Homo sapiens: one gene and its partners. The main gene of each other region encodes a partner of the protein of the gene in region 2 in a complex. Each region holds a gene or a part of one and is shown on either strand. Other genes may lie near its edges. A codon is read from its position in the direction of its gene.

The links.
Region 1: the proteins of ELMO1 (region 2) and DOCK5 are in contact, whole or in part, in a cryo-EM structure (PDB 8JHK), measured with the Homo sapiens proteins. Residues at the interface, in NP_001193409.1 of Homo sapiens: Ile7, Val8, Lys9, Ala11, Tyr18, Pro19, Leu21, Glu23, Glu36, Asp39, Gly40, Ser42, Asn71, Gly72, Gln392, Asp393, Leu400, Glu401, Lys468, Arg531, Glu535, Leu536, Lys539, Leu547, Gln550, Gln551, Asn554, Arg555, Asn582, Thr688; in NP_079216.4 of Homo sapiens: Met1 (codon at 4,563), Ala2 (codon at 4,560), Arg3 (codon at 4,557), Trp4 (codon at 4,554), Val14 (codon at 4,524), Ala15, Ile16, Tyr17, Asn18, Ser22, Gln23, Gln30, Ile31, Gly32, Asp33, Thr34, Glu39, Tyr41, Gly43, Trp44, Arg46, Tyr48, Lys56, Ile58, Pro60, Glu61, Thr62, Tyr63, His65, Leu66.
Region 3: the proteins of ELMO1 (region 2) and RHOG are in contact, whole or in part, in a crystal structure (PDB 7Y4A), measured with the Homo sapiens proteins. Residues at the interface, in NP_001193409.1 of Homo sapiens: Lys9, Val10, Ala11, Glu13, Tyr18, Pro19, Leu21, Met22, Ala54, Asn71, Gly72, Ile74; in NP_001656.2 of Homo sapiens: Val36, Phe37, Asp38, Trp56, Tyr64, Arg66, Leu67, Leu70, Ser71, Pro73, Gln74.

The regions. Positions count from the first base shown.
Region 1 is NC_000008.11:25,178,894-25,189,471, reverse strand, and holds the start of DOCK5 (dedicator of cytokinesis protein 5), read right to left. Parts: upstream 4,784-10,578; 5' UTR 4,564-4,783; coding exon 4,521-4,563; intron 1-4,520. UniProt on the Homo sapiens protein: Guanine nucleotide exchange factor (GEF) for Rho and Rac. GEF proteins activate small GTPases by exchanging bound GDP for free GTP. Along with DOCK1, mediates CRK/CRKL regulation of epithelial and endothelial cell spreading and migration on type IV collagen.
Region 2 is NC_000007.14:37,436,107-37,445,864, forward strand, and holds part of ELMO1 (engulfment and cell motility protein 1), read right to left. Parts: intron 1-9,758. UniProt on the Homo sapiens protein: Involved in cytoskeletal rearrangements required for phagocytosis of apoptotic cells and cell motility. Acts in association with DOCK1 and CRK. Was initially proposed to be required in complex with DOCK1 to activate Rac Rho small GTPases.
Region 3 is NC_000011.10:3,837,960-3,848,743, reverse strand, and holds the start of RHOG (rho-related GTP-binding protein RhoG), read left to right. Parts: upstream 1-7,784; 5' UTR 7,785-7,850; exon of another isoform or gene 7,851-8,176; intron 8,177-10,468; exon of another isoform or gene 10,469-10,677; intron 10,678-10,784.

The DNA of each region.
Region 1 (10,578 bases), on a different chromosome or scaffold from region 2:
GGAGGGTCACTTGAGCCCAGGAAGTTGAGGCAGCAGTGAGCCATGATTTTGCCACTGCACTCTATCCTGGGTTACAGAACGAGACCCTGTCTCAGAAGAAAAGAAAAAAAAATCAGCCAGGCTCATGGCTCACCCCTGTAATCCTAGCAACATGGGAGGCTTAAGGCTGAAGGAGCACACGAGGCCAAGAGTTCCAGATCAGCCTGGACAATATAGAAAGACTCCATCTTTAAAATGATTATTTTAAAAGTTTAATATTTTAAAACTTAAAAAATCAAAAAACTTAAGCCAGGCATGGTGGTGCACACCTGCAGTTCCAGCAACTTGGAAGGCTGAGATGGCAGGTTGCAGTGAGCTATGATCATACTGTACTCTAGTCTGGGCTGTGGAGTGAGGCCCTGTCTCAAAAAAAAAAAAAAAAAAAAGAAAGAAAGAAAGAAAAGAAAAGAAAAAAAAGCTTTGCAAAGAATCCATAGTCAACCTAATCTGGGGCTATTCTTTACATAATGGCTTGTGTGGAAGCAAACTTAAAAATAAATGTTTTTATAATCAGACTATTCTGGATATTTATCACTAATGTTTGCTTAAAAGTGTTTTATATCTTCATATGCTCAAACAGAAAAAAGAGAGAGAAAAGAGAAACAAAGAAAGAAAAAAGATGAGAAAAAAGCACATTTTCCACGTCTCCAGGGAAGAACACTTAGCCACTGAGCACTTAACACTGGGGTACTAGAGCACCATAAGTTTAAAGAATCAAATAGATCAGTCACTTCACTTGATAACACACAGAAACCATTGAGATCCACTTAATGCTAGAGCCTGAGCCAACACTGCTGTTTAAGAACTAAGAAAGCCCAGACAGGCTGCATTTCAGTCCCTGTAGAAACATCTAGGATATGTCAGGAACAGCCAAGAGTGGCACCAAGATAAAATATGACAGTAGCGACTGCCAGCTTCAGCAGGCACAATTCATACTGAGTCCAAAGCTCTATCCTCACACAGACTAGCTCTGCAGAGGCACACTCCTCTTAGAGCACAACAGGCAAAGTCATAGCTAGCTCTGAGTCATCCAAATGCTTCAACATGACTATCCTACGGTTCCTTCATCCAGAAACCAAATCTGACCAGTACACACTTAGAGAAGTCCAGAAAGCCAATTTTCCCAACTATATTTAAGAAAGTCTGTCTGCTCCATGCTTCCTTGTTTTCTCAGCAGAATATCTCATTCTCTTACTTGCAGAGATAAAGACAGAGTGGAGGCTCTCCCTTCCTCCATCTAACCAAACAAAATTCAACTCATATTGGGGTGAATGAGATGTTATGCCTAATGGGAAGAAAAAGAAGAGGAAAAAACTGCATTCAATTACCAGACAAGCTAGGTTAGTGTACTTTAGAACGGCACCCCAACATCAAGGACAAGCAAACTGAATGCACTAATACCTGGTACACCTGTTGAGTGCTAGGAATACAAAACCACAATGGTCTGATTCACTGAACCCAAGGATGGCACAGTCCAGGAACTGCGAGGAAGAAGCAAGGAGGTTTGGGACAGTCTGACAAATAGCAAATTTGAAGAAGGGAGTAGGAATGGATTTGAGCCCTCAAGGAAAGGTGAGCTGTCTGAGGCAGAGTTGGGAGGGCACTCCTGGCAGGGACAGGCACAATGGGAGCAAAGTCCCAAAGGAGGGACTCTGCAGGGTATGTTGCACAACAGTGGGAAGGGCAGTTGGTCTGCATTGGAGAGCTAGTGAAAGAAGCCTCGAGAGATAATGCTGAAGATAGGCTGAACCAGATTATAGGAACCTTGGAACGGAGGCTCAGACTTTATCCTGTTGACCACGAGAGACTTCCAAGCAGGGAGGTGACATAAACATAAGCAAGGAGGTGACAAAAACAATGAGTTTTAGCAATAAGCAATGGAGATTTCTCTCTTCAGTTAATTTATCCCAACTGTGGGTCCTTTTGTCAAACCCAGACAAACCAGAATCTATGTCTGGTGAAATAAGTGTTCAGAATTATATCCTGGAGCAGTTTCCCTAACACCTAGGCCCTGGAAATGCAATCCAAATATTTTACACACACACACACACACACACACACACACACAATTTCCACCCATATTTCCATATACATATATATATACACACACACACATATACGCATATATACATATATATGTATATACATATATACATATATGTGTGTGTATACGTGTGTGTGTGTGTGTATATATATATATACGTATATATATGTATATATAGTTTTTTTTTTGAGATCGGGTCTCACAGTATCACCCAGGCTGGAGTGCAGTGTCGTGATGGGGGCTCGGTGCACCCTCAACCTCCCAGGCTCAAGCTATCCTCCCACCTCAGCCTCCTCAGTAGCTAGAACCACAGGCACAGGCGACCATGCCCGGCTAAATTTTTTTCGTATTTATTGTAAAGACCCGTTTGCCATGTTGCTATGCTAGTTTTGAACTCCTGGGCTCAAGCAATCCTCCTGCCTCTGCCACCCAAATTGTTGGGATTACAGACGTGAGCCATCGCACCTGGCCCAAATATTTTTCTTGACTGATAAGTGACACAGTAAACTGACTCCAGAACATAAAAACAAAATATTAAAAACAATTATACTTGCTCCTAGGACTATGGCAATAAAAACCACATTTTTGAAACATGTTTGCATTAATTACCCTCAACTGAATAGTTTTGAAAAGAGCTTTTAATCCTGATAAAATTAGAGTTGATAACATTTCTGTAGTGATTGGGCATTGTAAATATGCTTTCATCTAGGGGCCAGGTGAGGTGGCTCATGACTGTAATCCCAACACTTTGGGAGGCCGAGGCAGGCGGATCACCTGAGGTCAGGAGTTTGAGACCAGCCTGGCCCAGATGGCGAAACCTGGTTTCTACTAAAAATACAAAAATTAGTCAGGTGTAGTGATGCAAGCCCGTAATCCCAGCTACTCGGGGAGGGGGGCTGAGACAGGAGAATTGCTGGAACCTAGAGGTGGAGCTTGCAGTGAGCCGAGATTGCGCCACTGCACTCCGGCCTGGGCGACAGAGTGAGACTCCCTCGTCAGTCCGTCTCAAAAACAAACAAACCAAAAAAAAAAAAAAAAAGAGCCCTGAGGCAGAAGCAACATCTCTACCCATTTCTGAGATGCAGCTAAGGGAGAGACTAAGATTCTAAAAGCAACTTAAGAGCAAAAAAGAAAATGTCTTTTGAATTGAGGGAAAACAAAAAATAATAAATATATAAAGGATCACAACCTAAGAATAATATAGTAAATATGAGACTGTTAAAAAACAAAACAAACAACAACAAAAAACCCTGACTCCTGGCTACAGAGTTGAAAAGCCCCTAGACACGTTGAGTAGCTCTTAATTGAGACTGCACTTCATTAACCAGTGAGGTGAGGAAAAACAGGACCTCAGTAAGGGAGTAAAGTCAAAGACTAAATTACAAACAGGCCAAATGAATGGATCTGAGAGGAAGTGATAAAATTCGCAACACACTCAGCCGTGTTTATTGTAGGGAATCACCCCAGGTCTAACTGCCATTGTAATCACCCCGTTCAGGGCAGAAGTCTTCCCACAGGCCCTCAATAACTTCAATCCTTGATAAAAAGCCAAAGGAGCCTGACTTTCCACCTGGGTCAAAATCCCCGCACATCTATTGTTTCGGAGCCAAAGCACCACCACCAGCAACCCCTGCGCACAACCCGGGGCTCTCCAGCACCGCTGTTCTGAATGCCAAGTGCCCAGCACGGGGTCTGGCACAGTTTCCTTAATAAAATGTCCTCTTCTCGTCTCCAGGATGAAACTCAGGATCCGGAAGGCAGCCTTACACCCTCTCCAGACAGGCTCCGTTAGGGGATGAGTGCGCACAAACAGCCCCAGGGGCCAGCCACCCCCTTCCCGTGCCACAACTTCCTGTCCCTTCCATCACTTCCACGCCACGACTCTAGTTTCCATCCAGCTCACAACTGTCATCAAGATCCCAGTCTCTGGAGGAAAGGGGGCAGGGCGGCTTTCCACCCTCAACTCCTCACTTAAGGGGCGTCTGAGAAGAACCTACGAAAGCGGGGGGCAGAAAGCACTGGGACAATGAGCACCAGTCCATGTGCCGACCCGGGCTGGTCACCTACTCCCAGGTGAAACCCACGCTGGGCGCACCGGGGCGAGCCACAGAGCTGCGGCCCCAAAAGAGCAGCAGGCGCGCCCCCCTCGCGTTGACATTTCCCTGGTGTGAAGTGCCGGAGATTGGGATGCAAGAGCGGGATTACGGTCCCGAAGCTCAGCTGCACTTGGAAGCACTCGGAGTCCCCAAACCCTGGGCGACTTCCCCATCGGCGCTCCCTGGAGAGGACTCCTACCGTCCCCGGCTCCCAGAGCTGCGCAGCCGGGCCGAGCCCCCGGCCAGGGTCCTCCGCCGGGCTCTGCGCAAACCTGGCAGGGCCGCTGTCCGCGAACTTGGCCGCGTGGGTCGGGCCGGGACAAGGTGGGGCGCGCACTCACCAACCCCGTACTTCTGCCTCTTGGTCGGGATCCAGCGGGCCATGGCGGCGACCTCGCCCCGCGGCGGCGGCGACTAAGGCTGCTACAGCTCCTCGGGCTCCGGCCGCCGCCGCCCCGCGCTCCTGCGTGCCCCAGACGCTTCCGCCATGTTCCGCCAAACTTCGCTGGACTCCGCGGGCCGCCTCCTCGCCGCGCCGCCCGCGCCCGTGCCCGTGCCCGCGCCGCCCGCGGTCACCTGCTGGGCCGGGCTGCAGCGCAGCAGTGCGCGCCCCTCCTGGCGCCGCCCCAGTCCCTCCCGCCGGCCGCACCCTCCGCCCGCCGGGGCCGCCTCCGAGCCGCGGGCGCCCGGCCTCTCCCGCCCGCGCCGCTCTCTGCGCTCTGCCGGGCGGGGGCCGACTGCGGCTCCGCCTCGCGCGCTTCCCTGGAGCGGCTTCCTGGGCCGGCGGGACTTTGACGCTGGCGGCACTTTGCCTTTCTCCCGCCCTCCCCACCCGGCTGATACCCCGGAGGCTGGGTCCCGGGGGTCCGGCTCCCGACAGAGGGCTGCGCTGGAGGAGCCGGGCACGCCCAGGCCGGGCGGCCGGTGGGCGAGGGATGCGGGCTGCGCTCCCACGGCGCGCGCCGGACACTTGGGGAGCGGAAACGGATCAGCGAGAGCGGCTTCTTGCTCGGGGCACCTCCGGTGCCTGGCACTAAGCGGGCGCGCAATAAATATTTGTTGAATGAATGAGCAGTTGACTTCTGCCTTCACCCCCTGGAGCTTGAACCCGCGCCGCGAGCGGGAGAAGCCGGACTCAGGGCAGACTGAATCTCCCGGGGCCACCGCTTAGAGCCTGGAAAGCAGAACTTTTATCACCGGAGAGCTGGTGCAAGGGAGGTGGGCTCCTCAGAAGTATCAGACCGTTTGCTAGGGGATCCTCTGCAGGGAAATTGTTTAGAAAGCCCTAATTTGGAAGTCCTGTATCCCCAAACTCCGGGGACCCCCCAACCTTAAGCTGAAGAAACTTAGACCCTCATGCCCAGACCTCCCTTTCCCAACCAGCCAGCAGCCCAGAGAGCATTCCCGTGGAGAAAGGGCCAAGGCGCATCCCCGTCTTTTCTCCGTCAACGACTGCCTTTTCTTGACGAAGATCCCAAAGGGGCTGCGCATTTGAACCGCCTTGGGCTCCAGGTGGCGCCCTCTCTGGAGCTCCCCTCTTGGAATTCATTTCTTCCTGGAGAGACTTGGAGAATGAAGATCCAGGGGTTTCTCCCTACCTTGTACCGAGAAGTAACATTGCAAGTAGAGTAAATGACCAGCTTAATTACGTTCACCTTCGAAGAAGATTCCTCTAGAGAGAAATTATATCCTCCTTGCAGCCTGTGAAGGTTTTCATGCGTTTTAGGAATATAAAAGAAAGGAAGACAAACATGTAGTAAAGATAGTAAAGACAGGTAGTTGGCCAGGCGTGGTGGCTCATGCCTGTAATCTCAGCACTTTGGGAGGCCGAGGCGGGTGGATCACCTGAGGTCACGAGTTCCAGACCAGCCTGGCCAACATGGTGAAACCCCTTCTCTACTAAAATACAAAAGTTAGCCAGACGTGCTGGTGTGCTCATGTAATCCCAGCTACCCAGGAGGCTGAGGCAGGAGAATCGCTGGAACCCGGGAGGCAGAGGCTATAAGTGAGCCGAGATCGCGCCACTGCACTCCAGCCTGGGCAACAGGGCAAAACTCCGTCTAAAAAAAAAAAAAAAAAAAAAAGACAGTAAAGATAGATAGGCAAACAAGGTAACAAGATAGTAAAGTTTCATTGGAGAATTAGTGCATTTTAACTTTGGTGGTTTTTTACCAAACGAGGTCTGAAATTTTTTTTAAGTCCTATTCACGGTGGGTAACTACTAGAGCTGGCTTTTTTTTTCTCCATCAACCAATAGGTATTTATTCACAATGTTTAACAATAATTTAAGAAATTCCTCTGTCACTTTAGACTTGACATCCAGAAAGAATTCCACCATCTTCCCTAAAATAATTTATCTTCCTCCATTAGTATATCATGATTCTAATTTCCCAGGTTAGGTAATTTCTTCTTCCTTCTTCACACACATATTAAATGCCTACACGTTAAGTGCCAGGCATCACTCTAAGAATGAGGGTGCAGCGGTGAATACAGTAGAATGTGTCCCTTCACAGAGCTTCTAGTCTAGACGGGGAGAGTAAGACAGTAAAGAAATGTACACCAAACGAGAGTAAACATTAGAGAAAAATCCAAAGCAGGGAGGATAGGGCGTGTAGGGTGCTGCTGTTTTTATGGAGTGGTCTGGGAATGCAGCTCTGCTAAGCTGAGGTTGAGGTGTAGACCTGAAGGAAGTGAAGATTCCGGGAGAAAGTATTCTGGAAAAGAGGAACAGCAAAGGCAAAGGACACCAAGCGTGTTTGGCAGGTTCCCAGGTCACCCAGAGATCCTAGGTAATGAGAGCTGAGTAACAGGTGAGAGGAAACTTGGTCTAAGAGGCAGAGGAATGCCAGATAGAGCAGAACCCTGGCAGGCATATGGACTTTATATATTACTACTACAAGCGAGGTTTGGAGGGCTTTGAGCCAACCTGGAACATATTGAACTTGCCTGCTGTGGTATGAATCCATTGTAAAGGGGCAAGGGAGGCCCACATGGATGGATGTTGGGGGCTATTTCAGTCATTCAGGCAAGACATGAAGGTAGTTGGGTCCAGGAGGATAAGGATGGAGGTGAAAAAGATGTTGGGTTCTTGACATACGTGAAAATAGAGCCTGGCCAGATGTGGTGGCTCACACCTGTAATCCCAGCATTTTGGGAGGCTGAGGTGGGAGGATTGCTTAAGGTCAGGAGTTCAAAATCAGCCTGGACAACATAGTGAGACCCTCCTCTACTATATATATATCCTGGGCATGGTGGCTGTGCCTGTGGCCCTATCTACTCAGGAGACTGAGGTGGGAGGATTGCTTGAGCCCAGGAGGTCGAGGCTAGCAGTGAGCTATGATTGCATCACAGCATGAAAAAGAACCAAGAGGAGGGCCACATGAACGGCAGGGGGATCTACTACTGTGAGGCTTCAATCTTTTTTGGAAAGTTTTCCCCCAGAAAGAGATATGCTTGTATTTTTCTTTTTTTTTTTAAAGAGCCCTACCCGTATCGTACACCCTTCAGGCCCCACACACCTTGGTTCTTGTCCCTGCATGTGAGATACAAGCTGGGTCAAGAATGACTCTAAAGCCAGCTAGGTCGCACATGCCTGTAGTCCCAGCTGCTAGGGAGGCTGAGGCAAGAGGATTGCTTGAGCCCAGGAGTTCCAGGCTGCAGTGAGCTATGCTGATCAGGTGTCTGCACTAAGTTCCGCATCAATATAGTGACATCCTGGGAGCAGGCGACCACCAGGTTGCCTAAGGAGGGGTGAACTGGTCCAGGTCAGAAATGGAGCGGGTCAATTATTTGGAAAGCCCTAATTTGGAAGTCCTATATCCCAAAACTTCGGTACTCCTCCTTAGCTGAAGAAATTCAGGCCCACATATCCAGGGGGAAATCTACCCCAAGACCTCCCTTTTCCAACCAGCCAGCAGCCCAGAGAGCATCCCTGTGTAGAAAGCAACTGGATGCATCCTTGTCTTTTCTCTGTCACTGACTGCATTATTGACAAAGATCCCGTAGCCGGGACTTCACATTTGAACTGCCTCAGGCTCCAGGTGGCACCCTCTCTTGAGCTCCCCTTCTGATCAATAATGGGATGGCACCTGTGAATTGGCACTGCATTTCAGCTTGGACAACATAGCAAGACCCTGTCTCTAAACAAATATTAATTCAAAACAAAAAGAGTGACTCTAAGGTTTGGGGCTTGAATAGCAAGGGAGTAGAGTTGCCATTGTCTTGGTCACCATTTATATCTATCTTGTCTTCACCCTTTCCTGTCCCAGTTGCTCTGTATCAAAGTTTTCCTTTCAATATTTCTTTAGGACCCACTTCTTCACGCCTTCCTCAGCAACTTCTCCATGTGGCCCCTTAGGAGCTAAAGCGCTCTGCACTGGATTATATGACTTGCCTGTTGTGGACTCAGGGCTTCTCAAAGTTACATGAATTCTCCGTGCTTAGGGAAATTGGATGACCTCTGTTCTCTGACCAAAGGTATATTTCAAATGTACCATACATCAGAATGTTAATGCTCTTATCCAGTGGAACTGGGTTTCTACCAAAGCGATTTCAACTGCCTCATCCCACTTTTGCATTGAAGTCTTCTTCTTCCAAAACTAGAGGTTTGAATTTGGGTGCCAGAGATTTCAAATTTGACAATGGCTTTAAGAGAGTTGGAGGAAAATGGAAAATTTTAATTACAGCTTTCAGTATGTTTATCATTTCCTTTTGAAAACTGAAATCCACTCACTTTGCTATATCAGATGGCTAAATCCTAGTGTGAATGTCCTTTTAAATCATAAAAGCAGAGCTTTTCAAAGTCTTTTATTAGAATGAGGCTTAAAATTAGACAGTTAACCAGACAGGCAGTTGGAATGACAGCGTGATGCCCAGAAATACCCTTTTTTTTTCCTCTGATATCTTTTCAGAAGAAACATTAAGCATATTCCACAGAGATCTTCAGACTCCAAAACCCACACAAATACAAACACACTTAAGCACGCACAGACACTCACAGGCTCTGCTTGAAGGAGCCATGGAGAAAGAAATGAGGGTAAGTGGCTTTGAGGGTTAGTTTGACATGAGTATTGTGACTAACCCTTACAATGCCTTAGAGAATAAATGGACAGGATGTGAAGAGAACTGGCAAGAGCCTCACCTCCCTGTTGATTACCAGGCTTGTTTTTGCCAAATCAGGCTGGTCTGATGGCTTCTCTATGAGATGCTGTGGAGTCGTTTAAAGTGTCTTTTTTCTCTCTCTCTCTAGATAAAAGAAGATTATTCTGTGATCCTATACGAGTCAGTGGCTAATGGAACTACCAAAAAAATGATAACAATGCAAATAATGTAATTGGTTCTAAGCAGTGCTTTGCAGGCTCCTAAGGATGGTTCTAAGTAAGCCAGGAGTAGGTGATACATTGTAATTCTGGGACCCATGAGCTTAGCAGGACAAAGGAAACCATGAATCACCCTAGTCCCAGAAGTACCTTTTCATAGGCCCCAGGGATTCCAACATCATTATTCACTCTCCACTCTGCAAGTGACTTAGGTCGTGAGCATCTCTGAGTCTGCACAGGCTCTGCCATGTGGCTGTGGGGGTCCGGCTTCTCTGATGGATGGGAAGATAATGCTCGGGGCTCCAATGCTATTATCTCCTCATCTCTGTCACAAGGAGATTTATACTTATGATTTACCCTTTTCATGAACATGGGAAAATTCTTTTTTCTAGTGTTGTTTCTGGAATGTTCTTTGCTGTGTCTAAATGAGCTGATTCCACTGTTGGGAGAGGTGGATGATGTGAGCAGTAAGAAGGCATTAGTTTCTTGAAAACTAGATCCATATTTAGGTGAGATGAAATCAAACTACCTGATTTTAAAAAAAACAAACTATGTTTATTTACCGTATGTCTTGATTCCTATATACATTGAAAAATTATATTCATAAAACTGTTTAAAATAAGAGATGATGGGCTGGACGCAGTGGCTCATGCCTGTAATCTCAGCACTTTGGGAGGCCAAGGCGGGCAGATCACTTGGGCCCAGGAGTTCGAGACCAGGCTGGGCAACACGGCAAAACCCTGTTTCTACAAAAAATGCAAAAATTACCAGGGTGTGGTGGTGTGTGTCTGTAGTATCAGCTACTCAGGAAGCTGAGGTAGGAGGATTCCTTGAGCCCAGGAGGTGGAGGTTACAGTGAGCTGATGTGGCACCATTGCATTCCAGCCTAGGTGACAGGGGGACCCTGTTCCCCCTGCCAAAAAAAAAAAAAAAAAAAAAAAAGAACAAAAAGAGAGATGATGAAAACTTAGAAGAAATGTGGAAAATGTATAATGTAGGCATAAATGAAAATAATTAGATTGTCTATGCCGCAAAATGATTGTAGCTATAGAAAGTCATAGATTTACAGGGAAAATGACCA
Region 2 (9,758 bases):
TGTTTGAAATCACTTTTAAGCTGCTAGATATTTTGGTAAGAACATAACTCTCCAGTGAGTTACTGTAGATCTGTATTTCATTATCTAAGTCTTCTTATGGGTCTTTAAACATATATTTACCATTGGATTCTATTTCAAGGTACACACCAATCCTGATATATAGAAAAGAGGCGTTGCTACACAGCGGACACTGTAGTTGCTGAATAACCCATGTTTACCACTCTCCTAGGTAAAATAAAGTGACCAGAAATTTTTCACACTGAAGACTGTATATTTGTCAGGTCCAATGAAGATATGCATACAGCCATTAGACAAGTGATTTTCATGACTATAGTAATGGAAGTCAAGGTGGAGACCAAAAGTTATCACTTTCAAAGCACTAATTTGGAGAAGCAGTTTCTGTTTGGCACATGGCTCTCTGACACCCATACTTCTATCCAGGGCATTTTAGTGTCTAGATGAAGGTTTCTCTCTTTTCAACCCACTCCTTAAAAGCTGTTACTAAGTGACTGTTTAATGGGTACATGAGCTACTGCTTAATGAGCTGGTGTGCCTGTAAGCTAGTTGCTGCCTTTCTGAAGAAGCAATAAGTAGAAAAAGCACCCAAACAAACCGGCCACATCCAGAGAGAGCGATTGGAAATGGAAGCAGGTGGCTTCCACTTAGGTGGCCATAAAATGAATTGTCCAACCCACTGCACTTGGAAAGTGAAAGCTGGTGTAATTGAACGTGCTGGGACAATGGGGCCACACTGGGTCTGTACACTTGGGACTACAGACATTCTTCTTTTATTTTTCTATTTTTATTCCCAGGATAATTTCTAATCTGGTTGACAGCTTGATCATCTGGCTCAGATTAAAGAAGAAAATTTAACAATTTACAACCACCCACCTGCCAATGAACATTTCAACAGTCCCCTACTTGGTGGAAGGTTCCAAACGATTGAAAAAGGGACATTTCCAAAGCATGAATGGACCCATTGAACCTCCTTTATATGCAACATAATCATATGAAACCCAGTTCAACTGAATGAAATTCCTGACAATTGCTCCTTCACTGTTACTCCAATGACATGGGGTTTCTCCCAGGGCCCCTGTGCACCCTTGGACAAATGCAAACAACCTCAAAAGCTGGAATCAAGAAAAGGGAAAGAGCTCCAATGGAGCCATCTCCATTCTCTCCCCTCAAAGTAAAAAAAAATTAATAATACAATAAAACAGTAAAATCTCAGGTTAGTTCAAATGGAACTGGGGATACACATTAGAAGAGCTTTCATTTGAGGACCCTAAATTGCTAACTTCAGTCATTACATCAGTTATTTTAATTCACAGTCAATCATAACTCATCCCCGTCTGTATTTTAACAGTTGGTACTTCTCCTGTACTGGTTTAAGTTTCATTTTTAATTAACAAATAGTAATCATTCATATTTATGAGGTACAATTGGACGTATTGATACATGTATACCTAAGGAATGATCAAATCAGGCTAATGAACATATCTATCACTTCAAATATTTAGCATTCCTTTGTGGTGGGAACATTTAAAATCCCCTCTTTTAGCTGTTTTGAAATATACAATAGGCCGGGCGCGGTGGCTCACGCCTGTAATCCCAGCACTTTGGGAGGCCGAGGCGGGTGGATCATGAGGTCAGGAGATCGAGACCATCCTGGCTAACAAGGTGAAACCCCGTCTCTACTAAAAAAATACAAAAAAAATTAGCCGGGCGCGGTGGCGGGCGCCTGTAGTCCCAGCTACTCGGGAGGCTGAGGCAGGAGAATGGCGTGAACCCGGGAAGCGGAGCTTGCAGTGAGCCGAGATTGCGCCACTGCAGTCCGCAGTCCGGCCTGGGCGACAGAGCGAGACTCCGTCTCAAAAAAAAAAAAAAAAAAAAAAGAAATATACAATATATAATTATTAACTATTGCCACCATGCTGTGTAATAAAATCACCAGAACTTATTCCTCCTGTCTGACTGAAACTTTCTATCTGGGTTTGACCAACATCTCCTCTTTCCCTGCCAACCCCACCTTTCCTCTTGTTTTCTTGAAGAAAAGACATATAAAGCAAACTAATTCTAGTCAAGACTTTAGGAGCAGTTACCTAGGTCACTTGAAGAAAATTAAATACAAAATGCATCTCTTTTTATGATTTCAGCAAGATAGTTTAATAAAGAACCTGAATAGAAACTACTGAATCGGGCCGGGCGCGGTGGCTCATGCCTGTAATCCCAGCACTTTGGGAGGCCGAGGCAGGAGGATCACGAGGTCAGGAGATCGAGACCATCCTGGCTAACACAGTGAAATCCTGTCTCTACTAAAAATACAAAAAAAAAAAAAAAAAAATTAGCCGGGCGTGGTGGCGGGAGCCTGTAGTCCCAGCTACTTCGGAGGCTGGGGCAGGAGAATGGCGTGAACCCGGGAGGCGGAGATTGCAGTGAGCCGAGATCGCGCCACTGCACTCCAGCCTGAGCAACAGAATGAGACTCTGTCTCAAAAAAAAAAACACTACTGAATCAGTGATAATAACCTCAATAATAATAGCAAATCCAACCCAACGCTTTTAGGGTACTCTACTTTACAATCATGATTGCATTTAATCATCTCAGCTACTCGAAGAGGTGGGGACTTATATTACCTACACTTGAAAGATGTGAAAACTGAGGCTAAGGAAGATCACTAACTTACCTGAAGTCACCCATCTGCTGTACTCAACAGGAGATCTGAACCCTCCATTAACAAGTATGTGCTTATGGCGCTTTAAACCTCAAAGACTCCTTCTCCTTTTTCCCAAATCCAATCACTTAGCAAATCATTTAATTTTGTCATCAATATCTACAGGCAAACACGGTGAGTGCTGGCCTCCCCTCCTTTACCTCTGCTCAGACTCTGGCTGGCACCCGCTGGAAGGCGGGGGCTGGACAACCTGTCTCCTAGTTGCATTGGCACAGCAAGCACACTGCTTTGTTTATTTATTCATCTGACCAAGACCATGTATTTATTTGAGCAGGCCTAGCAGGAGCTCCCATCTTTCCTCTGCCCCTCCCTCCAGCTGTACCATCTAATCTATCCTCCAGGTTGCTCTCACTGGAATGCACTGCATCTTTTCCTTGCCTAAAAGCCTTTGGCTTTCCTTTCTGCTGAATCCAAATGCCCAGCTCCTGGGATTGCTGACATAAAGCCCCTTCCAGACTGTCCTCCATCACCCTGATTGCTATATTCCCTGGATGTATCATATTCTTTCTCTTAATACTCAGCTTTCCAGATCTTTCTCAAAAGTCACCTCATTTGTGAACACCTACCTCTGTGATCTGCAATCACGGTAAACATACCTTTAGCATACTGTTATGACTGTCTCTAAACAGATTTGCCTGTTACAGCCCTCCCTACCCCTTCTCCACATATGGAGTGCCCAGGCTACAGCATACAAATTACAAGCAAAGTGGCTGTTGACTGACTTGAATGACTGAATGAAGCATTATGATCAGGGCTATAAGCCCAGCAATAGTTTAGCTTGAAAATATTTATATACATTTTAAGGATAAGCTCAACATCTGTTTTTAAAATATACTACAATTAATAAATAAAGCTTTACTGTGCTTCTCTCATATAAACCCAAGCAAATGTTTCTCAAAAACCTTCAGTTGGAGAATGGACAGTAATTGAGAAAGTAGTTCTAATGAGTCAAAGTCGCTTCCTGGCAGTGGAGTAAGCCTAGAGATGATGGAAACATATTCATTCCTTGACAAAATGTTTAATTTCATGTGATTTGTGCTGACTTACTATAAAAGTGACAGCACTGGAGAAAACAGGATTTAGCAGCTGATATAATTGTTTCTTTGCTTCTAAAGGCCTTTCATTATTAGAGCTGCATGGGTGTGTGTGTGTGTGTGTGTCTTTCTCTCACACACACATATATGTACAAAGCACTTATTATTTAATATATCAAAGAATCGGTCCCACTCCCCCAAACCAAAATTTCTGAGTAGTGGTCACTTCCCAGAGTGGCCCACAATTGGAATAACTGAGGCACAAGTCCACTATAAAAAAATCTAGGGGCCAGGCACAGTGGCTCATGTCTGTAATCACAACACTTTGGGAGGCCAAGGCAGGCGGATCACAAGGTCAGGAGTTCGAGACCAGCCTGGTCAATATGGTGAAACCTTGTCTCCACTACAAATACAAAAATTAGCCAGGTGTGATGGCAGGCACCTGTAGTCCCAGTTACTGGGGAGGCTGAGGCAGAAGAATCACTTGAACCCAAGAGGCAGAGGTTACAGTGAGCCACGATCGTGCCACTGCACTCCAGCCTGGGCAACAGAGCAAGACTCTAGCTCAAAAAAAAAAAAAAGAAAAGAAAAGAAAAAGAAAGAAAAAACAAAGAGGCTGGGTGTGGTGGCTCACACCTGTAATCCCAGCATTTTGGGAGGCTGAGGCGGGTGGATCACGAGGTCAGGAGTTTGAGACAAGCCTGACCAACATGGTGAAACCCCATCTCTAATAAAAATACAAAAATTAGCCAGGCATGGTGGTGGGCATCTGTAATCTCAGTTACTCAGGAGGCTGAGGCAGGAGAATCGCTTGAACTCGGTTGGCAGAGCTTGCAGTGAGCCAAGATCGCGCCACTACACTCCAGCCTGGGTGACAGAGTGAGACTCCATCTCAAAAAAAAAAAAAAATCTAGGAAACTGTGGGGTGGGGAGAGTTGGAGGGGTGGACGGGAGTCAAATAAAAACCAGCCTTACTGAGTGTTATTGGAATTCACTCCTCACTTGACCAAAAATGAGCAATCTGACCAAACTCCTCCACTAGCTCTACCTCCCAAGCCACATGCTTTCTGAGGGCCAAGGGTAAAGCCAGCTGTGGTTACGCATTTGGGCTAAAGAGACCAAAAACAAAAAAAAAATTATTTTGAAATGGATTACTCTTCAAAATTAAGGGTAATTGTGTGTAGCAGCCTGGAAAATACAGCTCATCCAGCTCTGCCACTGAACCCCACAGCACAAAACTCTGGCGTTCTAAATGCAATTCTGAACTGAAAAAAAAAAAAAGACACAAAGGGCGGAAGGAAGGGTGGAGGGTTGCTATAGGGCTGGTGAACTGTAAGAAGGCGGCTGCCTAGGGGAGTCATAGCTAGTCTATAACCCAGCATATTTCTACGGCACTTAAGCCACTCGATGGTGTTCTGGACTACGACAGCAGCCAAGCAGAGAAGGTAAATAAAAGGCTGACAGATAATTACATAAGAAAGTTAACATGGCAAGATTAGGACAGAAATCTAATATACAAAGTGGGAAAGGACTTCGCATAAAGCAGTACCTTGAAGGCTTCTCCCTGACCTGCTACAATGTCCTGGTCGCACTAATGGAATATCAATAACCATTACTATCCAACTAGTCAAGGTGGATTTGACAAGCAAAGGAGGAGGCACTGAACTCACTTAACTCATTCCCACACAGACATTTCCTTTGTCTTGTGACAAAGGCCTCTGAACAAGCCAAGCTGAGCTTTGCTACCCACCTCCCTCATTTCATTTATCTTATTGCCATTATGTAAAGGTTACAGTTAAGGCAGTAACCAGTGGTCAGAATTCAAAACGTTGTTAAGAAACTGAGACAAAAACTCACTAGTTACAGTGTTTTTCAGCCACAGGTACTAGGAAGAAACATGCATGGAAAGGAAACTTGAAAAACATTTGGATTAGAGAAACAACTGCAGTATAAGAGAGAAGAGAGCTAGAAAGGAAACTTGGAGAGCTGGAGGAAAGAAATGAACATAAAGGGTGAGCCCTCTCATTTATTAATACACCACCTTAGACTCTAAGGAATAACCAGTAAGGAGAAAACTGGGGCACTTATAACTGCTGTTGAAAGTCTAGACTATCTGATAACACACAACTGGTCTCACTAACACAGGAAGACAAAGCAGCAGTTCTCAGCTTGGGGACAGGAAAATTGATAGGACAATCTGCAATACCTGGAGACATCTGGGGTTGTCACAAACGACTAATGTACTGGCATTAGTGAACAGAGGCCAGGGAAGGCAGTAAACATTCGACAGTACACAGGACAGCCCTTACAACAAAGGATTATCCAGCCCGAAATGTCAATAGCACTGAGGCTGACACTGCCTGAAATAATGGGTCAGTAAAATGGCCAACAGCCTACAAGTAGAAAAAGAACCGTACAAGTAGCCTCAGCATCGCCCAAAGGAGAAACCATCACGGTCAAAGGACTCCAGTCTCTGGTTTTCTTAGTTGGTATGAATCTATCAACAAGAGAATTAGCAAAAGTTATGAGGAGCTGGAAAACACTGTCAAGTATATTCCCCTTCCAACTGGTTCCTTCCCAGGTGGTTCCATGCTTTTGCCTTCACCATGACTCATCCACAGAGGAAAAATGTTGGCTAAAGAATAAACGCCCATTCTTCTTGGCAAATACTGTTCTCATTTTTTATTAATAAATTGCATTCTAGCTCATATGCTTCAATATCATGAGGTTGGCTGATGGACATACTGTCCCTGAGAGAAGAATCCATTGACTCTCAAAACTAAGGTCAACTTTAGAATGAGATACCCAAAGAGAGGGATTGACTCTGAAGAACTAGGACTCAGTGGCAGCATTGACATCCCTGGATACCATGGCAACCCAGGGCACATCCATCTGCAGGACATACAGGAGTGAAGAGCCTCTCTGGACACCACTGCAGCATAGCTCCACATGGCATCCTGGCCTCAGAGGCTGGCAAGTCCAGTGAACCAACAAAAGAAGGAACTAACCAGTGCAGACATCATGGTGCAGGAGAAAGAAACAACGCAGTAAAACGAGTCAGAAAAGTTGGGTTTAAGGCTCAGATGCACTCTCTAAGTATGCTTGTGACATTTCATTCCTCCAAGCCACATCTGTAAAATGGGATAACAATACTATTCTGACTGTTCTCCATCATTTCCAAAACAGCATCCCCAGAGGAAGGGTGTGTCAGGCCACAGAGAAAAATGTCGCATTGATCCTATGACTCCACCTCCACTGAGAGAATGCTTTATAGGGCTTACCTGATTTTCATTCCCTCAAACCACCATTCCCTATCCAGAGTACAACCCACTGAACACATCTCAGTCCTTAGTCCAGCAAGTTGTGCCTCTCCAGTGTTTTCTACTGAGGAAAGTTTTGTTTTCTACCTTAACTGTTAGAACTAAAACAGTCAAAACTGTAGCCTCAATTCCTAAAATTGAAGTTCCAATAATAATTCTGTTCAGATTCTGGAAATCAGTGTTTGTGGGGGCCCGGAACACTGAGAATCGTCTCCTTCTATTTATACATGTGACTAATTTCTCGACTCAGCACTATGCCAGTTTGTTACTGTAGTTAATTCTGTTTGATGAGCTAGCATTCCTTCTCCCACACGTATTCCTATCTGATACTTAACTGTTCACCCCACCTTAGGCCAATGACCAAATTCTGCTCGTACCGTACCTGCACTTATATTGTAACAGGTTAGAAAATACAGCACTAAGACACAAGTAGTTAATGTAATCAGGAATCATGATATGGCTTTGCAGGCTTTAGTTCTGGCTAATATAGATAAGTTCCAATTGTTAACACTCAAACAACCCAAATTATCCAGGGAAATAAGCATTGCAACCAGTGTGTGCATTGTACATGCAGGCTGGCTTTGCTGAACCTAAAAATGCTGTGCTGGCATACTGGAAGGCTTTCATGGCCACACACATGGTCCTGGGAGCCACACCCTGTGGAATGACTGGCCTTCATGATCCTTTTATTATGGACAGTGCAGAAGTTCTCAGACTCTTTTTTTAAAGAGATGGGGTCTTTTTCTGTCCCCCAACCTGGAGCACCGTGGTGAGATCACAGCTCACTGCAGCCTCAGACTCCTGGACTCAAGCCATTCTCTTGCCTCAGCCTACCAAGTAGCTGGGACTACAGGTGCATGCCATCATACCCAGCTAATTTTTTAACTTTTGAGAGATGTGGTCTCGCTATGTTGCCCAGGCTGAGTTGTCAGCCTTTGACTTTCTTCTTTGGATAGCCAATCCAAGCCCAGGTCAGCTAAAATGCTTCACCTAATCATGCATCCCAGCAGTGTGGCTGCCTCCAGAAGAGATTACAACTGTCTTTGTAATTAGAATCATTCATGTGGGGAACACTAGATGTAAAATATGAAAGGAGAAGTTGAGCAGAGTAAATTTCCAAAGACCTCAAAAGTTCTAAACTAAAACTTGGTGAGAAAAGGGGATAGTCTGTCGATTTTATTCTAAGTAAGGTTAAAGAGTTATTGCAAAGGGAGCTACTGCCTTTCTGCATCACTAAAGTGAAAAGCATGTCACTTGAGTTTCTAGTTCCTCCAAGATGGCAGCATGAGGGCCTAGCGCACTGGCAAGTTCTACAAATAGTGGCATTTTTTTTTTTGAGATGGAGTCTTGCTCTGTCGCCCAGGCTGGAGTGCAGTGGCGCAATCTCAGCTCACTGTAAGCTCTGCCTCCCGGGTTCACTCAATTCTCCTACCTCAGCCTCCAGAGCAGCTGGGACTACAGGCACCCACTACCACGCCCGGCTAATTTTTTTTGTATTTTCAATAGAGACGGGGTTTCACCGCCTTAGCCAGGATGGTCTGGATCTCCTGACCTCGCAATCCACCCGCCTCGGACTCCCAAAGTGCTGGGATTAGAGGCGTGAGCCACCGCGCCCGGCCAATAGTAGCATTTTGAAAAGTTAAGTCAATAGCCGACAGAACTGCATCTGGTTCAACATTTGGAAATAGCATCTCCTGCAGGGGGTTAAACCAACAGTATTTTGTTAAAAGGAGATAGCTAAGTATTTCTTGTAGCCCTCTAGAACGTCGTCATCAGAATCCCTGGCAAGTTGGTTAAAAATGTAGTTTTCCCCAGAATTATTGAAACAGGCTTTTTAAAATCGTTACCTACACTGAGCAATACTTTGACATTAAGACTGGGTGTCTGTTTTATGAAATGCTGTTTTCCACACCACTCTTCTCTTTCACATTTTAAACTGCTGGTCTTGGCCTACTAAAGTGATATCATGATCCGCTCATGGGTTACAGCCGTAAGCTTAAAAAGCACTTCTCTGGTTGACTAGAAGGAACCAGAACTAAAGTTGCACAATTAGTAGCAAACACTCCAGGCTTTGTGATGCAGAGAGGGTTTCTTAATCCACCACGTTTTCCAGATTCAACAGAATGTCTTATAAACCAAACTATCTACTTGGATGGTTTCAGGCACCAAAAAGTGGTTACAAGCTTGAGTTACAAACCTTAATTGTATCCACTGTCTTAGATCTGGAAGGGAAATGTTACCTCCATAGGAATGATCACCTTTAACCCTTGAGCATTAGGCAACCTGATGAAGTAAGCACAGTGTGTGATCAGGTGAGCTCCTTGCCTCACCCCCAGCCACATCCTTCAGCAAAGGCTTCAAAGCCCTTTCCCCACCCGCCCCACCCACTCACACCAAACACCCAAAGGGGTTAAATTACTTTGAAACACTCAAGAGTTAGCTTCTTTTCAATATAGTAATTTAGTAAATGTTCAAGACTTAGCTGCACCTGCAGAACACCTTAATGTTTTCTCACTTTTATTTTTCTTCTCCTAGGCATTTCTCATCTCCCCTGCATCTGCCACACAGCCTCCCTTACAGCCTCCTGTCTTCACTTCCATATTGTAGGAGAGCAGAATGGGACACAGTAGATGCCTCTGACTTCAATCCCCTTACAATCATGCCCTTCCT
Region 3 (10,784 bases), on a different chromosome or scaffold from region 2:
AGATCAGGTAACTGTGATTTGCAGAAATTATTCTGGCAATAGTGCTGAGAAAGTATTGGAAAAGGTAGAAGCTGGAAACAAGTGACATGGTCTGACAGACCTGTACTGATAACCCAGCTCACCGCTGTGTGACCTTGGACAAGACCTGAAGTCTAATTTGGACAATAATGACGGGAATAGAAAAGTGTTCAGATTTGCGAAATATTTGGTGATTGATTAGATGACCAGGTGAGCAGGCAAGACAGATCAAGTTTAAATAATAGCTGTGGTTTTGGAAGATACTATTGTCTGCTAGATATTATGCTAAACGTGCTACATTCAATCATTCATTCAACCAATATTTACTGAGCAAAGTATTTTCATACCAGGCACTGTTCTAGGCACTAGGAATATAGCACTAAGTAAAACAAGCAAAACTTCTTGCCCTCCTGGAGCTTACATGTTATCTCATATAATGAATATCCATAGCAATCCTGAGGTGTAACACAATTTAGATTCATCTTACAAAGGAAATTAAAACTGACACGTTCAATTTTGCTATCTGTGAGGTTTTTTGTTTTGTTTTGTGTTGTTTTTGTTTTTGCTTTTGCTATTGACAGAGTCTTGCTCTATCACCCAGGCTGAAGTGAAATTGCATGATCTTGGCTCACTGCAACCTCCACCTCCCTGGTTCAAGTAATTCTCCTGCCTCAGCCTCCGAGTAGCTGGAATTACAGGTGCACACCACCATGCCCGGCTAATTTTTGTACTTTTTGTTTTAGTAGAAACAAGATTTCACCATACTGGTCAGGCTGATCTTGAACTCCTGACCTCAGGTGATCCACCCACCTCGGCCTCCCAAAATGCTGGGATTACAGGCGTGAGCCACCTCACCTGGCCTATCTGTGAGTATTCTTATCTGTAAAATTGAAATAATATTACCTGCCTTATAGACTTGTTATATTTATTGAGTTAATACGTGTAAAGCATATGTAAAACATATCTAAGTTGTTTTCCTAAATTATTATTCAGCAACTTCTCCAGGATCACACAGCAAGTAAATGGCAAAGATGAGAATTGGGGAAAATTTCCCCAGGGAATCCCGAATCAACTGGGCAGCTATAGTTGGGTTGCTCTTAGAATACCAGGACTGAGGAAGGAGAACTTTCCCAGAGGGGCATTATGCCAGATGATGTGGGTACTACCACTGGGCTTAGAAAATGTCAAAGATGCAAAGCTGTCCTGGAGGCTAACGGGACAACTATTGTTCTGCCTGCCTGGGAGAAGGGACCCTCTTGGAAAATAGGGCATGGCCATTGTCCACACACCCTTCATCCATTTAGTTCCTTGAGAGAGTCAAGAACAAAAGATTGGCCAGATGTGGTGGCTCACGCCTGTAATCCCAGCACTTTGGGAGGCTGAGGCAGGCAGATCACTTGAGGTCAAGAGTTCAAGACCAGCCTGGCCAACATGGTGAAACCCCATCTCTACTAAAAATACAAAAATTAGCCGTCGTGGTGGTGCTCGTCTGTAGTCCCAGCTACTCGGGAGGCTGAGGCAGGAGAATGGCTTGAACCTGGGAGGTGGAGGTTGCAGTGAGTCGAGACTGCGCCACTGCACTCCAGCCTAGGCGACAGAGCATGACTCCATCTCCAAAACAAAAGAAAAAAAATAAAAAAAGAAAAAAGATCAGAGGTTGTGACTCTAGAACTTTGTTTAATTTGTCACCTCTTTTTAGTTCTTTCTGCTGTCTCCTGTCTGGCCCATCAAAGCCCACAAAATGGGATATTGGACTTGTTTTGGGGGGCAGCAATAAAGAGGAGTAATGAAAAGGAGGCCAGTCACAGGGGCTCATGCCTGTAATCCCAGCACTTTGGGAGGCCGAAGCAGGTGGATCACTTGAGGTTAGGAGTTCAAGACCAGCCTTGCCAACATGGTGAAACCCCATCTCTACTAAAAATACAAAAAAGTAGCCAGGCGGGTGGCAGGCAACTGTAATCTCAGCTACTTAGGAGGTTGAGGTAGGAGGATCGTTGGAACCCGGGAGGTGGAGGCTGCAGTGAGCTGAGATCGTGCCATTGCACTCCAACCTGGGCTACAGGCCAAAATTCCATCTCAAAAAATAAAAAATAAAATAAAGGCCACGCACGGTGGCTCACGCCTGTAATCCCAGCACTTTGGGAGGCCCAGGTGGGCGGATCACCTGAGGTCGGGAGTTCGAGACCAGCCTGGCCAACATGGTGAAACCCTGTCTCTACTAAAAATAGAAAAAGTTAGCTGGGCGTGGTGGTGCATGCCTGTAATTCCAGCTAATCAGGAGGCTGAGGCAGGAGAATTGCTTGAATCTAGGAGGCAGAGGTTGCAGTGAGCAGAGATCGTGCCACAGCACTCCAGCCTGGGTGACTCTGTCTCAAAAAAAAAAAAGAAATAATGAAGAGGAAACTGTGTTCTACTCCTGAGGCTGGCTGAGAGAGGGAAGACCAAAGGATCAAGAGGAGCCCCAAGAAGGCTGAGTCCCCTGGAGCCACAGCAGAGGCAAAAGAGAATTCAGATTTAAGGGTAACCTAAAGGGGCTGGGACTGGGGCTAAGCCAAGACCCCTGTGGATCACTGGTGAGCTCCTGGAGCTGGAGTTCAGTGAGGAATAGGCTGGGAAGACCCCTTTGGAATCCTCAGGGCACTGGTGAGATCAGTTCAGGGCCTTTCTCCTCTCACTCTCTGTCCCCTCCTCTCTCAGGGAAACTAGTCAGCTTTAGCATTTTGACATTGAGAGAGAGGGAAGAATTAACCAAGGGCGGGGGGATACCTGAAAACATCAAGGGAGTGTGGAGAAATTAACTAATGTTTATTTGCTGTACCCTAGGGCAATTTACGAGGGCTCCACATGCATTATGTCGTTTAATACTCACAATCTCATGCAGCACTTGCCAGTCCCATTTTATTGTTTTTTATTTGTTAGTTTTTAGAGACAGGATCTCACTCTGTCACCCAGACTGTAGTGCAGTGGCATGATCATAGCTCTCTGCAACCTCAAACACCTAGACTCAAGTGATCCTCCCACCTCAGCCTAGCAAGTAACTGGGACTACAGGCATGTGCCACTATGCCCAGCTAATTTTTGTGTGTGTATGCAGATGGGGTCTTGCTATGATTGCCTAGGCTGGTTACAAATTCCTGGGCTCAAGTGATTGTCCCACCTTGGCCTCTCAAAGTGCTAGGAATAGAGGCATGAGCCACCACGCCCAGCCATTCCCATTTTAAAATGAAACTAAGACTGAGAAGTTGGCTCTGTTATATGCTCTTACAGTATTCTGTACTTTTTTTTCTGGAGAAATGTTCTTGCTATGTTGCCCAGGCTGGTCTGAAACTCTTGGGCTCAAGCAATCTTCCTGCCTTATCCCCCTGAGGAACTAGAACTGGAGACAAACACCACCATGCCCAGCAGCACTCTACTTTTGTATGATTACCTGTTTAAGGTCTATCTCCCTTACCAGTTATATCAGGGCAGTTTTCTCTACTTCATGATTGGCATGTAACACTATGTCTGGCACCAAGAAGATTTTCAATAAATATACATTGAATATTTATGAATATGGGAGATCTCATATGACTAATCAAAGGCCATACTGTGTTACAACCATCCTAATCTGTCTCCAAAACCTGTCTGTGATCTCTATTCTACCCCACCAAGTGCTTTCATATTATCTCACTTCTAAATGTCCAGGTTCAATGTCCTTGTCTCTCAGCTGCTTGTAAGCATACATGCACACCACCTACCAAGAACTCACCTATTCAGGGAAAGCTAGTGAGAGAGTAGAAAAAAGAAACAGCCCATTTGGGATTGTGCCCTCTTCCTACCCTCTTCAAGTCAGCATTTCTCCTCCTTCAAGAAGCCTTTACGGACAGCTCCACCTGTCCACCTGCTTCCCTTTCCTCTGGCCCTTCCCATACCTGTGCCACAAAAGTGTTTCCAAGTTACCTGGAGTCTGATTGTTCTACACATATTAGTACTTTATTAAAGCAATTTAACATTATGGATGTTTAGTGAAGGCAAATGTGTGCTCAGGCCTGCCTCTGTCAGGCCCAGTGGGTGGACACAGAAATGAATCAGACGCAACCTCAAAGGACTTATAGTCAGTGGGGGAGACAGATATTAGGCACAGATGCAATTTACTAGAGCACAAAGCATGATGACCTAAATGGTATTAAAGAACTATGAGCAACATGCTATATGCATAAACCTTAATTATTATTCTGAAGAGTGTATCATAGAAGATGAGAGCTCAAAGGTATCATCTAGTTCAACCTCTGTTTTCCAGTGGAAGAGTTTGAGACAGAGAAGGGTGGGGCCTAGCCTAAAATCTCAATCTGTCTGTCTGAGCCAAGACAGACTTCAAGTTTGTTTGTGGTTTTTTTTTTTTTGTTTTTTGTTTTTTGAGATGGAGTCTCGCTCCGTCGCCAAGCTGAAGTGCAGTGGCGCGATTTCGGCTCACTGCAACCTCCGCCTCCTAGGTTCAAGTGATTCTCCTGCCTCAGCCTCCCGAGTAGCTGGGGTTACAGCCATGCACCATCACACCCAGCTAATTTTTGTATTTTTAGTAGAGACGGGGTTTCACCATGTTGGCCAGGATAGTCTCGATCTTCTGACCCCATGATCCGCCTGCCTCAGCCTCCCAAAGTGCTAAGATTACAGGCGTGAGCCATTGTGCCAGGCCAGACTTGAAGGTTTTCTAAAGCCCAGCCTTGGACTTTTTCCTCCTCTTCTGATAGCTTCATATGCAAAGTCCTATACTTCATCAGACCATGAGATCTTTGAGGCTGGATCAGGTTCTCCCTCCTAAACCAGGGCTAGGCAAGCCCAAGACACTTACAGGCTCAGGAAATGCAATCTGATCCCAGGCTGCCAATCCAGTCTTTCAATCTGCAGCACCTAATGTGCTCCCTACTCTTATCACTATGTCCTTAAATTGATTTTCAAATATTTTTTGCAGGAAACTTAAAAACAAAATTAAACTCTCTATGCAGAATACTAGTAAATAAATCAGATAAAAAGCAAACCTTCTCTGGTTGAAGGGGAGAGAGTCCATAGCTCCACTGTTTTTCCTGTTCTTAAGTCCTGGGAAGGGAATTCTAGGAACACATATCAGAAACATTTCTTCTGGAGCTGGATGTGGTGGTGTGTGCCTGTAGTCCTAGCTACTTGAAAGGCTGAGGTGGGAGGATGACTCGAGCCCAGGAGTTCCAGGACAGCCTAGGCAACATAGTGAGAGTCCCATCTAAAAAAAAACAACAAACAAACCAGAAAAAACTTTTGTGCTGGGACATAATCTTTAATGGCGTCATAGAAGCTGCTTTAGCGTATGGTGTTCCTCTGAACCCTGTCATTTCTGGGGCTCACAATCCTTTCTTTATTCATGAAATACCAAGCACCCCAATGTCAAGTGGTCCCAATGGTGTATGGATGGGAATGAGAATTTCCCCTTGTGCCTCCTGCTCTCATGTCCTCCACAAAGAGGAGTTTGTCTGAAGGGCTACAGGGACCAGACCGAAGAGGAGACAAGAGACCCAAACACTGCCTGGCAGGTCAGGGGAGGCTTCTAGAGAAGGATCTTTGAGAAAGACTTCATCCACACAGTCATTCACCAGCCTGAATCTGATAAAGCCTCTGTTTTTGAGGATGATACAGTAGCCACCAGCTACACATGCTATTGACCACTTGAAATGTTTCCAGCCAAATTGAGACAAATTGTAAGTATAAAATACACACCGCATTTCAAAGACTTGGTACAAGAAAAGAATGCAAAATATCCAGTTAATTTTTATAACCAGTAATTTTTATGTTGATTACCATGCTAAAAGATAATATTTTGAGGCCGGGCGCAGTGGCTCATGCCTGTAATCCCAGCACTTTGGGAGGTTGAGGCGGGCAGATCACGAGGTGAGGAGTTCAAGACCAGCCTGGCCAACATGGTGAAATCCTATCTCCATTAAAAATACAAATATAAGCCAGGCATGGTGGCACGTGCCTGTAATCCCAGCTACTTGGGAGACTGAGGCAGGAGAATCATTTGAACCCAGGAGGCGGAGGTTGCAGTGAGCAGAGACCGCGCCACTGCAGTCCAGCCTGGTGACAGAGCGAGACTCCATCTCCAAAAAAAAAAAAAAAAAAAAAAAAAAGATAATACTTTGGCTATGGCTAAGTCAAATATAGTTAAAATTCATTTCGTTTCTTTTTACTTTTTTTGAAATGTCATTAATAGACAGTTTTAAATTACTTACGTGGTTCCTATTTATTTTTTTAAAAATATAAGTAGGCTGGGTGTGGTGGCTGACGCCTGTAATCTCAGCACTTTGGGAGGCCAAGGCAGGTGGATCAACTGAGATCAGTAGTTCGAGACCAGCGTGGCCAACAGGGTGAAACCCCGTCCCTACTAGAAATACGAAAATTAGCCGGGTGTGGTGACATGCACCTGTAACCCCAGCTACTCGAGAGACTGAGGCAGGATAACTGCATGAACCTGGGAGGCAGAGATTGCAGTGAGCCGAGATCGTGCCACTGCACCCCAGCCTGGGTGACATCGTGAGACTGTCAAAAAATATGTGTGTGTTTGTGTTTATAGAGACAAGGTTTCACCATCTCTGTAATTACAGGCAGACGCCACCGCGCCAGACTCTTAGGGTATGATATTTTTAAAAGATATTTGTTTAGTGTTTGAGATACGCATTGACAACAGGTCTTTTACACCCATTCTCATGTTATCTTCAAAACTACGGGGTGAAATATAATTATTCTATTTTACCAAAGACAGATTTGAGGCTCAGAAAGGTTAAGCTATTTATTCCTGGAATCAATCCGTTTATTTGAAAAGCTTCTGGAAGACAGGGATCCTGTCTTAAACGCTGTGTTTCTTCACAGCACCTAGCACTTAGCTCTCTCCACGTGGTAGGCGCTCAGAAACTTTGTGCTGAACGAAGGATATGGATTCTCAAGTCAAAGCTCCGAGCGCAAAGCCAGGGAGCGAAGCACCAGAGGGCGCCCATGAGCCCGCCCACCCGCGGGTCGCCGGGGCCCAAGCTGGACCTCAGGCCTGGGTGCGGCTCTTCAGCCCCAAGCAGCTGCGCGCCCCAGCAGAACAGGGGGCGAGGGGGCGAGGGAAGCCCCAAGTCCTCCGTCCGCCCCGCCCCCTCCCCAGAGCCAGGCCTCGCAGGGCTGCACGGTGCTGAATGACGACTCGACATCCTGTTTTTGGGGCCCGCGGCTCCGCCTGCGCCTCTGCTGATCTTGTCTTTCCCTTGGGTGCTGACGCCAGCTCCTCTTCCCCCCGAGTCTCCCCACCCTCCCCAGGGGTCTGGGGCCTTCCCACTGCTGAATCACCACCACCTCGCACTCCCCCGGGGCTCAGGGCAGGGGCGGGGACTGCCCCAGCCTCGGCCACCACTCTATCCCTGGGGTTGACTGAAGGGACCAGGCCCAGGGGCGCCTTTCTCAGCATCTTCCCGCGGAGGCTGGTGGGGGCGGGATGGGGGGAAGAGGACGAACGCCTAGCGCCCAGGGTAGGGCCTCCAGGGGTAGGGTGGCCAGGAGGAGGCGGAGAGACTTGACCTTGGGAGGCCTGACTTACTGACCGCAGGGGCAGCGGACTGGGAGGGGAACGTGGCAAGCCCGGGACTGGGCCGGGGGCGAGGCTGGGGGCGGGCCGGGGCTGGAGAGGGGGAGATCGGCCCTCGGACTTCCTGGTCGGGCCCCGCCCCGGCCCGCCCCGCCTCGCCGGCCCGCCCCCCCCACTTCCTCCGGCCTCCCGCTCTCACTTCCTTCTCGAGCCCGGAGCCGCTGCCGCCGCCCCCAGCTCCCCCGCCTCGGGGAGGGCACCAGGTGAGGCCCGGCCGGGGCTGGCGGGTAGGGGTCCGGGGGAGGAGAGCCCGGCCGGCCCAGGACTCGGCGCGGGCGCCGGCTCATGAGTTTGCTGGCGGAGGCCGCGGGCGGGAGCTTCTCGGTTCAGTCCAAGTAGGGCGGGCGCGGCCGGCCGGGCGGGGCGGGAACGGGGCCACTGCGAGCCGGCGGAGGCTCGGCGAGGGTGGCTTCCCGGCGGCTGTACCGCCTCTAGGGAGCCGAGAGGGACCCCTGAGGTCGGAGGGTCCCGGGCTCCAAGATAAGTGTCTCTGAAGTGGAAGAGCTCAGAGCTGGGAGATCGGACGCAGGTGGGGTGTCCTCAGAAGTTGGTGGGGGGGGTGTTGAGAAGTGCGTGAGGGGAGAGGGCTTCTGGGCTGGAAAAGGCGCTCCCTCTGCTCTGGCAGTTGTGACACTTGGGGTGAGAGGGGCGGTGTCTGGGGCCTCCGAAAGCTCTCTCCCTGTCAGATGGATGCTAATACAGACCCACACTCGGTCTGCAGCCCCAAGGCCCTCTGCACTCAGGAGGACCCGGGTTGGGTGGGGGAGCCCCGCCGACCCCAGTCGTTGTCTGTATGTCTGTTTTCCTGAGTCCCGACCTTACCTGGAGCCAAGCAGTAGGTATTTAGTGAGCAGACGCTGTTCCTAGCTGACCAGAGCCTGGCCTTGCTCTTTTGGGAGTAACTTGGTCTTGCCCTGTAACTGGAAGTGGAAGGACTCTCATTCAGAGGTACTGATAGTCCCTGACAAGTTTTTGTTGTGTCTTTTGGGGACAATTGAGAACCATCTCCTAGTGTTCCTCTTCATTCTTAGTCCCTGAATTATACACATGCTCCTGTCGTCTCCCTCCACACCTTCTTTAGTTTCTACCCACAAATCCGCCATCACTCTCTTCTCATCCCTTCCAGTCTCTTTTCCTCCAAACATACGGTCATACCTAGGCCTTGACCTGTCTTCACCTACCCTGCCCCATGTTCGTCTTGGTCCTCTGCAACCTGCCCCATCCCTTCCCTTCCCAGCTCTGGCACCCACACACATGCACCTCCTGGTTTCTTCCATCACCCCTCATTCCTTTTGAACCCTCAGCCTGTCACCCTCTCTGTATCCTTCCCTCCCACCCACTTATCTCCAGCTTTGGAATCAGTTGTTGAAGACTTAGTGAGTTCTAGAGTCTTTTCAAACCTCCCTAGCTTGGAGAGGCAGTCTGCAGCCTCCCAGTGATAGAGACGGATTAAAGAGCTGGAAAGCCTGTGTGTGTGTGTGTGTGTGTGTGTGTTTGCGTGTGTGTTCGCACGCGCGTGTCTGTGTATCTACATCTTCATCTCTTAGAGATGGATTAAAGAGATGGAAAGCCTGTGTGTGTGTGTGTGTGTGTGTGTGTGTGTGTGTGTGTTCGCGCGCGCGTGTCTGTGTGACTACATCTTTATCTCTTACAGACAAAATAACTGCCCTCAGCCTTGAGAGGGCCCAGAGCAAGGGAAGCCAGCAGAATGAAGGGAACCTGCAGTGAGTGAGGTTGTGGTTAGGCAGGAGGAAGCCGTTTGTAGCAGTCAGGGTAGGGTGACACAGGAATAAGACTTGTAAGAGAGGCCGTGGGAAATCAAAATCACCCCAACCCGTGGTGCTTGACCAAGAGGCCAGGCCTAGAAGCCGGAAGACAGCCTGAAGGTCCCTGACTCCATTACCTACTAGTTCCAGCATCACCTGGTGGAAAGAATGGGACCAGCTTGGGTGTGATGGAAATAAAGGGAGGAGGCAAATGCAGGATTCTGGAGGAAAGACTGCAGCTGGTCTAACTTCGGACTTAAGAAGCGGCGGAGGCAAAAGTGTCTGCTCCTTTCCTGCTACCTTCTGGGGCCTGCCTAGGCTGGGTACCCGCATGCCCTGATCTGCATCAGGGCCTTAGTGACCAGGAAGCCCTCTGGAGTTCTACTGACCCCTCTGCCTTCAGGCATCCTTAATACTCCCCATCTCACCTAGGACCCTATTCCTTCTCAGGAATTCCTCCCAAATTTAACTTCAGTCCATCCTGGCTATGGAGGCTCTTGTTTCCACTCTAGAGCTCCATCCTCAAGCTTTTGGGGTGCATCTGAGGATCTTGCTCCTGTCTACCTCCTCTAGTCATCTGTATTCATTTCTCTCCACTAGAAAAAAAGAGAAGTAGAGGGGAGTAAGTGCTACAGCTAAATTTAAGGGCTCTCCCTGTTCCCCATTCTGTCATCTTCCCATGTCACAGTCGTCCCTCTCCCATGAATTGTTCTTCTTCCAGTCCTGCCCTTCCAACCACTTGTCTCTCTTCCCATTTCTTGGAGGTACAGAAGTTTGGGTCCGGGAAGAAATCCCAGGGACCTACATAAGAGCCCAGGTTAGAGAAGGATGTGCATACAAGGCACTTTCCCAGCATCACAGCTTAATAAAAACCCCAGGAGTCCCAGTTCCTAGGCTGGCAAACCAGTAGTTACTTTAGTATTCTGCGTAACTGAGCAAACCCACAGGGCTCTGATGGTAAAGACAAGATGGGTGAGACAGGGATTCTCCCAGGTGAGATCTGGCCCCATTGGAAGTTTGAGCTAATTGCAAAAAAGGCATCATTGGAAAAAATGTGACCAGGGCGGGAGAGATTTTAATGGGAAAATATTGGGGGGTAAAGGGAGGTGGTGGCTACAACCTAGGAGGCTGCCGCTGAAGTCTTGGCTAAACAGGTATGGTCAAGGTTGTGACATGAAGAAGGGGGCTCAGGCCCACACTGAAGACTCCTTCTATATACTGTAGACCCATTAGTGGTGAGGTCAGTAGGGGTCCGTGACAAGAGCTGAGGAGGGAAACCAAAGACAAAGCCTGGGCCACCTCCCCAGATCAGACTGGTTTTCCTGTCCAGGGTCCAGCTTCCTCTTTTGTCCTCATCTCATATGGGGGGAG